Linked DNA regions of Homo sapiens: region 1 is linked to region 2. Evidence: fine-mapped expression QTL. Tissue or cell type: aorta. Region 2 holds a variant in brackets; the other region holds the start of a gene. All regions are shown on one strand. Distances are from middle to middle. Region 1 holds the start of SSTR5 (somatostatin receptor 5). Region 2 holds the start of C1QTNF8 (C1q and TNF related 8).

Region 1 (5,355 bases), 23 kb after region 2:
CCCTCGGCCACGAAGGGATCTGCTCAGCCTGACATGGCACTGGGAGAGACCCCGGCCCCTGACCACTCCCCACACGGGCTGCGTGGTCTGGGGTAAGTCACGGGCTTCTCTGAGCCCAGCTTCTGGGATAGGCAACTCCTGCAAACTGTAGGGTTGCTGAGCTGATGAAACTGAGTGAGCTTCTGTGTGCAGGGTGCTGCGTGCATCCACTCCCAGCAGCATCCATCCCTCCCATCTCCTGCCCCCACCCCACAACTCACCATCTGCAGGTGCCCGGTGTGCCAGGGTCAGCCCAGAAGCCACAGGGGACCCAGATGGCCCCAGTCTGCCCACAGCACCGCTCCCGGCCTCACCTCCCCACGACGGGGACCACAGCGGGGCTGGCATACACTGGGCGCTCAACGATTGCTCCCACAAGCTGCCCTAAGCAGCCCAGCATTTCCCCAGCATCCAGGAGGCCGCTGGGCTCCTCGGAGAAGGGGGCAGTCTTCACAGGGGCCTGGGACCAGAGGCGGGGCCTCAGCACCAAGTCCTCCATGACTGGGTGGAGGTCTAGCCTGCACCCTGCCAACTCCTTCCAGGCTAACCCAGCACGAGGTCGGGGAGTCGGCTCCTTCATGGGGGGCAGCGATGCGGCTGCAGCTTGGAGGGGCTGCGGAACCTGCTGCTCGGGGAGGCAGCGGCTCACACGGCCGGGGCCCACGCCGCACCCTGGAGAGGCTGCAGACCCACCCGGGCTCCTCCATTGTGTGCTGGGCAGGGGCAAACGTCGGGGGACACCCTAGCTAAGACTACAGGCCCCAGCCCCTCCAAAGGCCCCGGAGCCAGGCCTGTGCTCCCAGGACAAGCGTTCTGACCTGTTTCCTCTGTCGTAAGGGTGGCCTGGTGGCAGGCCACTGCCCCCTTGGGGTCCAGCTCTGTGAGTGCAGCCAATGGCACCCCTGCCTGTCCCCCACATACACGCCACCTGTCCCTGCGGCAGCCTGTGGCCAGGGGCACATACCCTCCCCAGGAGAGGGAAACTGAGGCAGGTGTGGGCCAGCCTGGAGCAGCAGCAGCAGGGGTCCCGCGTGCTCCGCGAACGCTTCTCGGGGCACCCTCCACACCAGGCACCTCCTGACAGCCTCGCTGGGTCTTGCTCTGGAAATCAACGCCAGGCGCCTGTCCTTGGTGCTGTTGACCAGTTTCTGCCCAGGAGGCTCTGGCAGTCCCCACCTACATAGTCCAGAATCACTGCCTTCAGAAAGGGCTCAGCCTCACTGGAACCATCCCCAACTTCTGTCACCATGCACTCCGCTCTCTTGCCCTTGAGGGGGCCCCAGGCAGGCTGGCAGGCTGGGGACAGCGGGTCGGGCACGTGGGTGGGTCTGGGGTGGGGGAGGAGGGCCAAGGGCACACACCCCAGTGGCGTGTTCTCTATTCTGGAGAGGGTGAAGACGCCAGGAGGATTCCAGGTACACGCGGTGCCTTGGACAGGAGGGGGCTCTGTTCGCAGCGGGCGGGGTGGCACCCCAGCCTCCCCAGTCTTGGGTTTCAGGGAACCCATCTGTGAGTGCCAGGTCACAGGGCCCCTGGGTGCTGGCCTCTGCCTGCTGCCTTCCAGGAGCTCACCGACCCAGCTGCGCGCAGGCACCAGTTGCCTCCCCCGGCACCCAAATTGCGGATCCTCCCCTCGCTGGGTGCCACGGGCACCCTGGGACCCTCCTTCCGTGGCCCAGTGGTTCCCTGTGGCCTGAGTGCCACTTCCGGCCCCCAGCCCCAGGCTCCGAGCCCTCCCCAGCCTTACCCACCCTCCTCCAGCTCCAGGAGCCAGCCCCGCTGTGGCCCCCGTCGTGGGGAGGAGAGGCCGGGAGCGGCGCGGTGGGCAGAGTGGGGCCATCTGGGTCCCCTGTGGCTTCTGGGCTGACCCTGGCACACGGGGTGCCTGCAGATGGTGAGTTGTGGGGTGGGGGCAGGAGATGGGAGGGATGGAGCTGCTGGGAGTGGATGGAACGGGAGGGGAGGGACCCCCGGCGGCGGCAGGAGAGCCCCGCGGGTGTGCGGAGGGCGCGTGGGGGACAGTGCGTGCAGCGGGCTGGGGGCGCACGGCGGGACCCCGGGCCGGGGCTGCGCACACAGGGTGAAACCCCCAGTGGGGATAACAGCCGAGGGCAGGGGGTGCCCGCGCGGGAGGGGGACAGGGGCGGGCGGCACTCACCTGGGCGGCGGCGCCCTCTGAACGGGGGAGCCCCGATGTCCGCGCGGCACTGGCTCCGGGCTCCCGGGCGCCGGCTGGGAGGGGGCGGGGCGGGGCGGGGGCGGGGCAGTGCCTGGTGGGGGCGGGGCAGGGCCGCTTCACCTGCTCGACTCCCGGGTCCCACGTCTGGCCTCCGGGAACCCTGGCGCACTCGCCCACAGCCCTGGTCCCACTGGCAGTGACCCCATGATCGCCTGCGCCCCCACCCTATTTTCTTGCTGTCCGCTCTGTGGTAGACCCCAGCTTGGGGTGGGGGTCCTGCCGCCAGCAGGAGTCCAGGGGGTCCCTCGTCGAGAGTCTGAAGAGGGTGGAGGGTCCTTGTTCAAGGGGAGAGGGTCAGGGGCTCTGCAGACGTCTCTGAGGGGTGGGCTGGGGTTGTGGAGATAAGTGGGTGTGTGGAGGCTGGTGGGGGCGGCAGGCAGCCCCAGCGAGGGGGGTCCGTGGTCGTGGGATTTCCAGGACACTCCACTCGGGTTTTATCCATGCCTTATTTGTGGATCCTACACATATTTAAGCATAGACTACCTGCTAAGTTGTTCTTTTTATTTCCCCTGAAATGAATCCATGGGTACACCTTAGTCCCTCACCTAAGGTGGGGTTCTCAGGCAGGCAGCAGAGTCACCTGGGTCCTCAAAGCAGATTCCTGGGCCTCGAGCTGGGCCCCCGACTCCCCAGGCAGTGAGGGCCTGGGAATCTGCATTCCTGAGAAGCTCCCGGGATGCTGATCCCCGGGCCCGCCGTGAGCGCCGCTGGTTGTAAGAAGCGGGACCGAGCGCCTCCTCCCGCTGAGCGCGGAGGCTGGGGATCACCGGACATTTTCCCACCAGGAGGTCCCCCAGCCCCCTCCCCTGACTCTGTGCCGACCCAGGGAGCCCCGCCACTGGCTGAATGAAGTGAGGCGCCCCCAGGTGACAGCAGAACTCGGAGGGCCCCTCTCTGAGGGGACATGGGAGCAGCCGCCTGCCGTCTGTTCACAGGTGGGGTCGGCTCCTGTTGAACAGGCGCCAGCAGCTCCCTTGAAGGCCGGGTACCGGGACCATGTTCTCTCCTTTAAGCGTTTCAGTGTTTCCACATGTTCTGCAAGCAGCGCGTGTTATGTTTACCATCGAGCAAGAGTGCTTAGAGGACCATGGCACCTGGCCCCAAGGTCCCCTCCCCTCCTCCCCAGCCTGCGGCCATGGCCAGGCCCTCAGGGGAGGCTGCAGGCTGGTCCCAGGTCCCCTGCCCAGAATCCGCCCCATAAGCCTTTCCATCCTCTCTGGAGGTACCTGGGCTGTATCCCTCCCACCCTCCCACAGCAGTGGCTTCCCAAGGCAGATCCTCTGAGAACCCCCTTTGTGACCCCTAACGCCTCCCCCATCTCCATCTGCTGCCCCTCCCCTCAGCCTCTGCCCACCATCCTCATGGTTCTCGCCTCAGCCCCTGGCTGTGTTCCTCCAGCTCCCACTGCCTCGCACCTGGGCCCCCATCTGTCATGTTCTGGGGCTCCCTGAGAAGCCTCTGGGGTCCCACTGTTCTGGAATCACTGGGTGCCCCAGGGGTGCAGGGTCCGGTGTGCGAGTCACGGCCCAGCGCCCAGTGGGAGCTCAGCCCTGCGGGTGGGTGGGCGCTGGATCTACTCACATCCCCAACATCAAGCTGGGACACCCCCCACCTCCAAGCACCTGGGCCCTCCTGGGGGCCTGATGGCCAGAGAGGGGACCTGTCGGCCCCACAGTGCCCCTCCCCACATCGGCCACCCTGAGTTCTGGGCAGGAGTCCCCTGGCCTCAGTCCCACCCACCCCAGGAGGATCAAATGAGGTCATGCCCGCCTGGGACGCTGCAGAGGTCAAACCCAGCACCGTGAGGATTAGGGGCTGCCAGTAGCCATGGCAACCGATGGTGGCTGGATGGACTCCGCAGGGACGGTCCTCAGACCCCTCTCCAGGGACCCCACCCTAACTGTGACCTGTCCCACGGCCCGTGACACCCCCTCTCCTGAGGCTGAGGACAGCAGCTCCCGGACACAAAGCCCGTGCCCCTCCCCCACCAGGCAGAGGCTTGGTCACTGGGCTGACTCCCCTGTAATTATTCAAAAGCAACAGGGGCTGACTCCAGCTCACCTGGAACACCCCAGAGGCCTCTCGTCTTAGTCCCCAGACTGGGCTGGGCCCTGGGGGTGGCGGCCAGGAGGAGTGTGGGGCACTCTGCCCTGCAGCCAACAGGGCCCTCCCTCCGCTCCTCCAAAGGGCCCCGCTGCCCACTGTCACCCTCTGAGCATCAGGCGTTTGCCCTGGCTGCCCCCCTGCCTGGTGCACCCCACCTCCCTTTCTGCAGGTAACTCCCCTGGCAGCTCAAGCAACGCTTCCTCCGGGAAGCCCGGGCCGCCCCACACTTGTTCCGTCGACCGCTGCCCCCAACAGCCTGCAGATGTTCACAGGAGGCCACGGGGCCTGGTGGGTCTCGACGTCGCCCCCGGGTCTGATCACAGCAGGATTCCAATAAACACGGGTCCACGTGCACCTCCCGGCCCTGGCTGGTGCAGCACAGCCCGCCAGACAGGAGGTCAGAGATCAGCCCCCCACCGGGGCAGCACAGCGGGTCACCAGCCTCCCGACAGGAGAAGAAAACACTGGCGCAGGCGCTGCCGGCATGTGTTGCTGGGACTGGGCTGGGAGGGTGTCCTGGTGTCTGAGAGCCTCAGGGAGCTACCGCAGAGCGTCCCCAAGAGCACAGGGTGCCCTGACATCCTGCGGATTCCAGCCTGGGGACCCGGCAGCAGGGGCTTCCCACCAAGGCGTCTGGAGTGAGATGCAGGCTGCAGCTGCCAAGGGCAGAGCGTGGCCCGGGGTCCAGACAGAAACAGGGAGACCCTCAAAGGGTTTCAAGGATGGGGCCTTCTGCAGGGGCCTGAGTCCCGCCCCTGGGGCCCTGGCTGACCCTCCTGGCCGTGGTCTCGAGCTTCAGTGGGCACTCTGTTAAAATGGGGTGCTCATTAAAATGCAGCTTCCCAGGCTACTCCAGCCTTCAGGATGGGAGGCGGGGGCAGTGCTGAGGCCCTCACCCACACAACCCGCTGGGGTGCCCACTCTGTCCCCTGGCACCTGGACCAGTGCCCAGTGTGGAGTGACGTCCCATG
Region 2 (5,355 bases):
TTGCTGAGGCCCCCTCCCCCAGTGCCTGGCACCTCCACCCGCACCTCACTGGCACAAGCGCCCCGCAGCACGGAGAGGGGGCGGCCCTCCCGGGGCCCGCCTGGGACGCTGCTGGGTGTCTGTGGGGGGTGGGCCCCAGGGCACCCGGCAGCAGCCGCTCCCCCGTCGCCACGGCAATGCCGCGGTCATGCCTGGCCAGGGCTATTTCTGTCCAGGAGACATGCTGTCCTGCCCCACTGAGTCACCCCCCGCGCTCCCTGCCCACCCCACTCAGGCCTGGCCTGCAGCTTCTGTGCCACATAGTTCAGGCATCGGCCCTGCCAGCCGCCTGCCCAGACGGACTCTCCCCAGGACGGGTCATCCCGGGCCACCCGAACCCAAGGGACCCAAAGGCACCCTTCCCGGGCCGTTCACCCACCCCTCAGCCTCCCTCCACCCTGCTCTGTGCGTGGGGAGGCTCTGGGACCTGCCCTCAAGGGGGACTGTCAGGAACATGCCTCTCTTTTTAGGGGGCAGTTCTGCTGGCGTCGGGGGGCACTGAGGGGCACAGGGTTCCCTGTGTCTAGGCCTCAGGGACGCTCTGGATACTTCTGAGCTCCATGGGTGCCCATTTCACGGGCATGGGAGGCTGAGGCTCAGACCCAGGGCACAGCAGAGTGTGGGCGTCCGCCCGTCTTTCTCTGCAAGCCCCAGGAGCACACTGTCCCACTGGGACACATCTGCAGAGCTGTGTTCTCGCCGCCCAGGGCACAGCCACGCTGAGCCGGCTCGGTCGGATGCAGGTGCCATAGTCACAGGCGCTCAGGTCTTCACACCCCATCTGTGTCACCACAGCCAACAGGGTGAAGATGGCTGTCCCCAGAGGGGGCCGCTGGGCCTAGTGGGTGCCGCTGCCAAGGGTGAGCTGTCACCGCCCAGGGCCACCTGGAGGGGGGAGCCTGGAACCGGCTACAGCTGGTGCGGTCCCCACCACAGCCCTCCCCAGCCCGTTGCCCGCAGCCTGGCACACGAAGCTCCCACAGGGGGGACCCCTTGGTCTCCCCTCACCTCCTGTCCTCCTTTCCTCCTCGGTCTTTAGCATGGGGGTGCTGAGGGCCAGGCCAAGCTGAGGGGCTGCGGGGAGAGCGGGACCCCAGGTCGCACACAAATCTGCCGAGGGGACTGAGCCAGCTCGGGGCCCCTCCCCGCCCACAGCCTGCTTTCAGGCAAGGCCGCCACAATTCTCCTGCCACGTCCAGCACCTCCCACAACAGGGGCCGGCTTGTGGAGGAAGGACCTGTGGGGAATGGCCGCGTGTCCGTGTCCAGAGGCCCAGGGTCGGAGCGGGACAAGGCCAAGGTGCTGTGTGGGCTTGGCCTGGGGCCCACAGAGAATGGAGCCCCCGCCCGCTGAGGCCTGGGAGGCCTAGAAGTCATTCCCGCGAGTCGTCCGGCCCAGTCCTTATCCGCTGAGAGGCGGGGCTGGTGCGGGGCCTCCCCAGGGGTGTCATGAGGGAATGAAGAGACCCCACGGAGCCTGGGGAGGCTGCGCTCCTGGGCTCCATCCAGCCTGGCTTCCCCGCCAGCAGCATGAGGGCTGTGCGTCACCCGGTGGCTTGGTGGCCATGGGGGCCCCGTGCAGCATGGAGGCCCTGGTCTGGGCCCCGAACACGGGCCTCGGCCTACAGCCCCCCCGCCGGGCCCGCCCAGCCACAGCTTCCATCTGCCTGCTTCTCCTCAGGGCGCCGCACCCCAGGCGGGCAGCAGGCTTGGTTTCCCGATGGAGGAGAGCTGCGTGCCCACGGCACCATCCCCCAACCCAGCCGGCCAAGACGCCGGGCCCCAGCCCCGCTCATGGGCACGGGGCTGGCAGGAGGACCCTGGGGCCGCGAGGCAGGCTTCGCAGTGGACACAGGGGCCCTGCCAGGATCCTGTCCAGGGCTCGGCGGAGCTGGCCTCTCGGCCTGTTGCTCTTGGACAGCCCAGAGGAAGCCAC[G/A]GGCGCCCAGGCGGGCATGAAAGGGCTCTTTGACGGCTGGGTTGCTGGGACAGTAACACAGACGGCCGGCCAGGCAGGGAGCATCCCTGAGACGGTAACAGGAAGCACAGGGCCTGGGGCTGGTTGTGGGAGTCTTCACAGCCGCCCTGGGCAGGTCGGGCTCCCCCTGAACCCCAGCGGAGCATGATCCAGCCCTGATTGTCTGCCAGGCAGGGCCAGGGGCTGGGACGGCCGGGAACTCCGTGGGGGCTCCTGCAGGCCTCCGTGCATGCACACACCCACTCCTGCCAGGCTCCCTCTGCCGGAGGAGTCCAGGGGGGCTCTTGTGGTGTCCAGTGGGGCCAGGGGGTGAGTCAGGGTCTGCTGAGCTCATGGGGAGGCAGGCAGAGGGTGTCTCAACTGCCAGAGACATTCCACCCACCTGGAATGACCCACTGCAGGAGGAAGGACCTTGCCCTGTGCTACAATCCCAGAGGGCTTCCTGAAGGAGGCAGCCTAGATCTTTGTCCAGCAGAGCCCATCTTCAGGGAATATTGAGGATCCCGACCCGTGCACCTGCCCTAGCGGAAGACACTCCTGGCCAAGCCTCCAGATGTGGCTGTGAGGGGAGTGGGGTAGGCAAGGCCCACCTGGCAGGGGGGCCAGGCTTGTTGGGGCAGCTGCTGTTGGGAGGGGGCCTACCTTGCTCAGGGGGACCCAGGTTGGCTCTGGCTTCCCCTCGGCACCAAGGTGGGACCATCCTTCCCTAGTCTGGGGGAGGCAGAGGAGTGGCCTCCCGAGGCCCCTGCAGGCCCTGCCCTGGGGGCTCCGGACGAGAGGCTCTCTGGGCCTGGCTGAGACGGTGCCTCTGTGCACTGTGCAGGGCCCCCCACCCCAGGCCAGCCTTGGGGGGCCTTTCCCTGGAGCAGACCAGCCACCACGCCCCAGGGCTCTGCCCAGCCACAGTGGGTGGGGCCTTGGGCGGCTACCCGCTCCTGAGTTTAGAGGGCTGTCTCAGAGACCTCTGTGTCCCACAACGGCTTCCCCACCATCTGCCGGGTGTGGGGGCCCCAGCTTTGGGGACCAGGACTCCCCGACTCCAGGTGTGCAGGGTGCCTGGTGCGGCCCAGAGTGTAGCAGCCCCTGAGCCTCGGCCTTGGCCTCACCCACTGGGCCAGGACCGTCCGTGCCCAGGCAGAAGCTCCCGCCTCCACTGGCTGTATTCCCAACGGGGGCAGGGCCGGGCTGCCGTAGGGTCTGGGGGCTCCAGCTGGGGCACCTCCTTCTCAGTCCCTCCCCTCTTTCCTCTCCCCCAGCCCTGGCCAAGATGGCAGCCCCCGCCCTGCTGCTCCTAGCACTGCTGCTGCCCGTGGGGGCCTGGCCCGGGCTGCCCAGGAGGCCCTGTGTGCACTGCTGCCGCCCGGCCTGGCCCCCTGGACCCTATGCCCGGGTGAGTGACAGGGACCTGTGGAGGGGGGACCTGTGGAGGGGGCTGCCTCGAGTACGGCCCACTATAGACATCGAAATCCTCAAAGGTGAGGCCCGTGGGTGCTGCCTGCATGCTCCCCCACCAGGACCCAACAGCCCACAGGGAGTGGGGAGCACCTGGGGCTTGGGAGGAGGGGCGGGAGGGGCACGCTGAGCACCAGTGTCTGCCCTGGCAGCGCTCCCTGCACAGGGACCCCTGGGCTCCCCCCGCAAGCAGGAAGAAGCCTGGCTTGGGGAGGGACCCATGAACCAAAGTGGGGTGCTGAGGATCCTGGGGAAGGGGGCCAGGGTTCCTGAGATCCCCAAAGTAGCAGCCCCTTGGGAAGGGAGCCTGGGCAGCCCGCTTGCTCTGAGACCCCTTGACACGGCTGCGCTGTCCCGAAGGCTGTACTAAGGTTAGGCTTGGGTAGGACCTTCCCAGCCTTCTCATTCTTTAACACCCAACGCAGACCGTAGCTGGCCCTGACCACCCATGTCCCCACCCTCTCGGTGGGGACGGCCTTGCCACAGGCCTTGGTCTAGCCACACCTTTGGAGAACGGCTTCTCCCCATCTTACAGACGTGGACGCGGAGACTGGGAGAGGGGCCGTCACTTGCAAAGAGTGTGTCCTTACAGTGACCCTTGAGCCCCAGCCCCTGGCCTGGGTGCTGGAATGGGGGAGGCCTGCCCAGCCCGGCCCCGACCCGTGGCTTTCGTTTGTCCCCTGCAGGTGAGAAGGGTGAGGCCGGCGTCCGAGGTCGGGCCGGCAGGAGCGGGAAAGAGGGGCCGCCAGGCGCCCGGGGCCTGCAGGGCCGCAGAGGCCAGAAGGGGCAGGTGGGGCCGCCGGGCGCCGCGTGCCGACGTGCCTACGCCGCCTTCTCCGTGGGCCGGCGCGAGGGCCTGCACAGCTCCGACCACTTCCAGGCGGTGCCCTTCGACACGGAGCTGGTGAACCTGGACGGCGCCTTCGACCTGGCCGCGGGCCGCTTCCTCTGCACGGTGCCCGGCGTCTACTTCCTCAGCCTCAACGTGCACACCTGGAACTACAAGGAGACCTACCTGCACATCATGCTGAACCGGCGGCCCGCGGCCGTGCTCTACGCGCAGCCCAGCGAGCGCAGCGTCATGCAGGCCCAGAGCCTGATGCTGCTGCTGGCGGCGGGCGACGCCGTCTGGGTGCGCATGTTCCAGCGCGACCGGGACAACGCCATCTACGGCGAGCACGGAGACCTCTACATCACCTTCAGCGGCCACCTGGTCAAGCCGGCCGCCGAGCTGTAGCCGGGTGAGGGGCCCCGCGGCTGAGCACCGGGCGCGCGCGCGCGTGTGTGTGTGTGTCTGTGTGTGTGTGTGTGGGGGTGGGTGTGGGTGTGTGTGTGTGGGTGGGTGTGGGTGTGGTGGGGTGGGCGGGCAGCGGAGCTTCAGCGCCGACTGTGTGCAGTGATTTGTTGAGCGCTGACTGTGTGCAGGGATTGGTTGAGCGCCGACTGTGTGCAGTGATTTGTTGAGCGCCGACTGTGTGCAGGGATTGGTTGAGCGCCGACTGTGTGCTGTGATTGGTTGAGCGCCGACTGTGTGCTGTGATTGGTTGAGCGCCGACTGTGTGCAGGGATTGATTGAGCGCCGACTGTGTGCTGTGATTTGTTGAGCACCGACTGTGTGCAGGGATTGGTTGAGCGCCGACTGTGTGCTGTGATTGGTTGAGCGCCGACTGTGTGCAGTGATTGGTTGAGCGCCGACTGTGTGCAGGGATTGGTTGAGCGCCGACTGTGTGCAGGGATTGATTGAGCGCCGACTGTGTGCAGGGATTGGTTGAGCGCCGACTGTGTGCTGTGATTGGTTGAGCGCCGACTGTGTGCAGTGATTTGTTGAGCGCCGACTGTGTGCAGGGATTGGTTGAGCGCCGACTGTGTGCAGGGATTGATTGAGCGCCG

The links.
Region 1: it holds the start of SSTR5, and the variant in region 2 is fine-mapped to the expression of SSTR5 in aorta (GTEx, PIP above 0.99).

Annotation. Positions count from the first base shown.
Region 1 is chr16:1,069,665-1,075,019 of GRCh38, reverse strand. It overlaps SSTR5 (somatostatin receptor 5), which reads right to left and starts at 2,273. Exons shown (of 2, transcript NM_001172560.3): 1 at 2,198-2,273. The region is part of intron 2 of SSTR5-AS1 (SSTR5 antisense RNA 1); the gene reads left to right. RefSeq lists enhancers at 2,772-3,513, 4,482-5,238.
Region 2 is chr16:1,092,848-1,098,202 of GRCh38, reverse strand. It overlaps C1QTNF8 (C1q and TNF related 8), which reads left to right and starts at 1,959. Exons shown (of 5, transcript NM_207419.3): 1 at 1,959-2,047; 2 at 2,415-2,588; 3 at 3,270-3,488; 4 at 4,152-4,706. The coding sequence starts at 3,281. The coding sequence ends at 4,702. The variant G/A (reference allele first, on the strand shown) is at 1,975.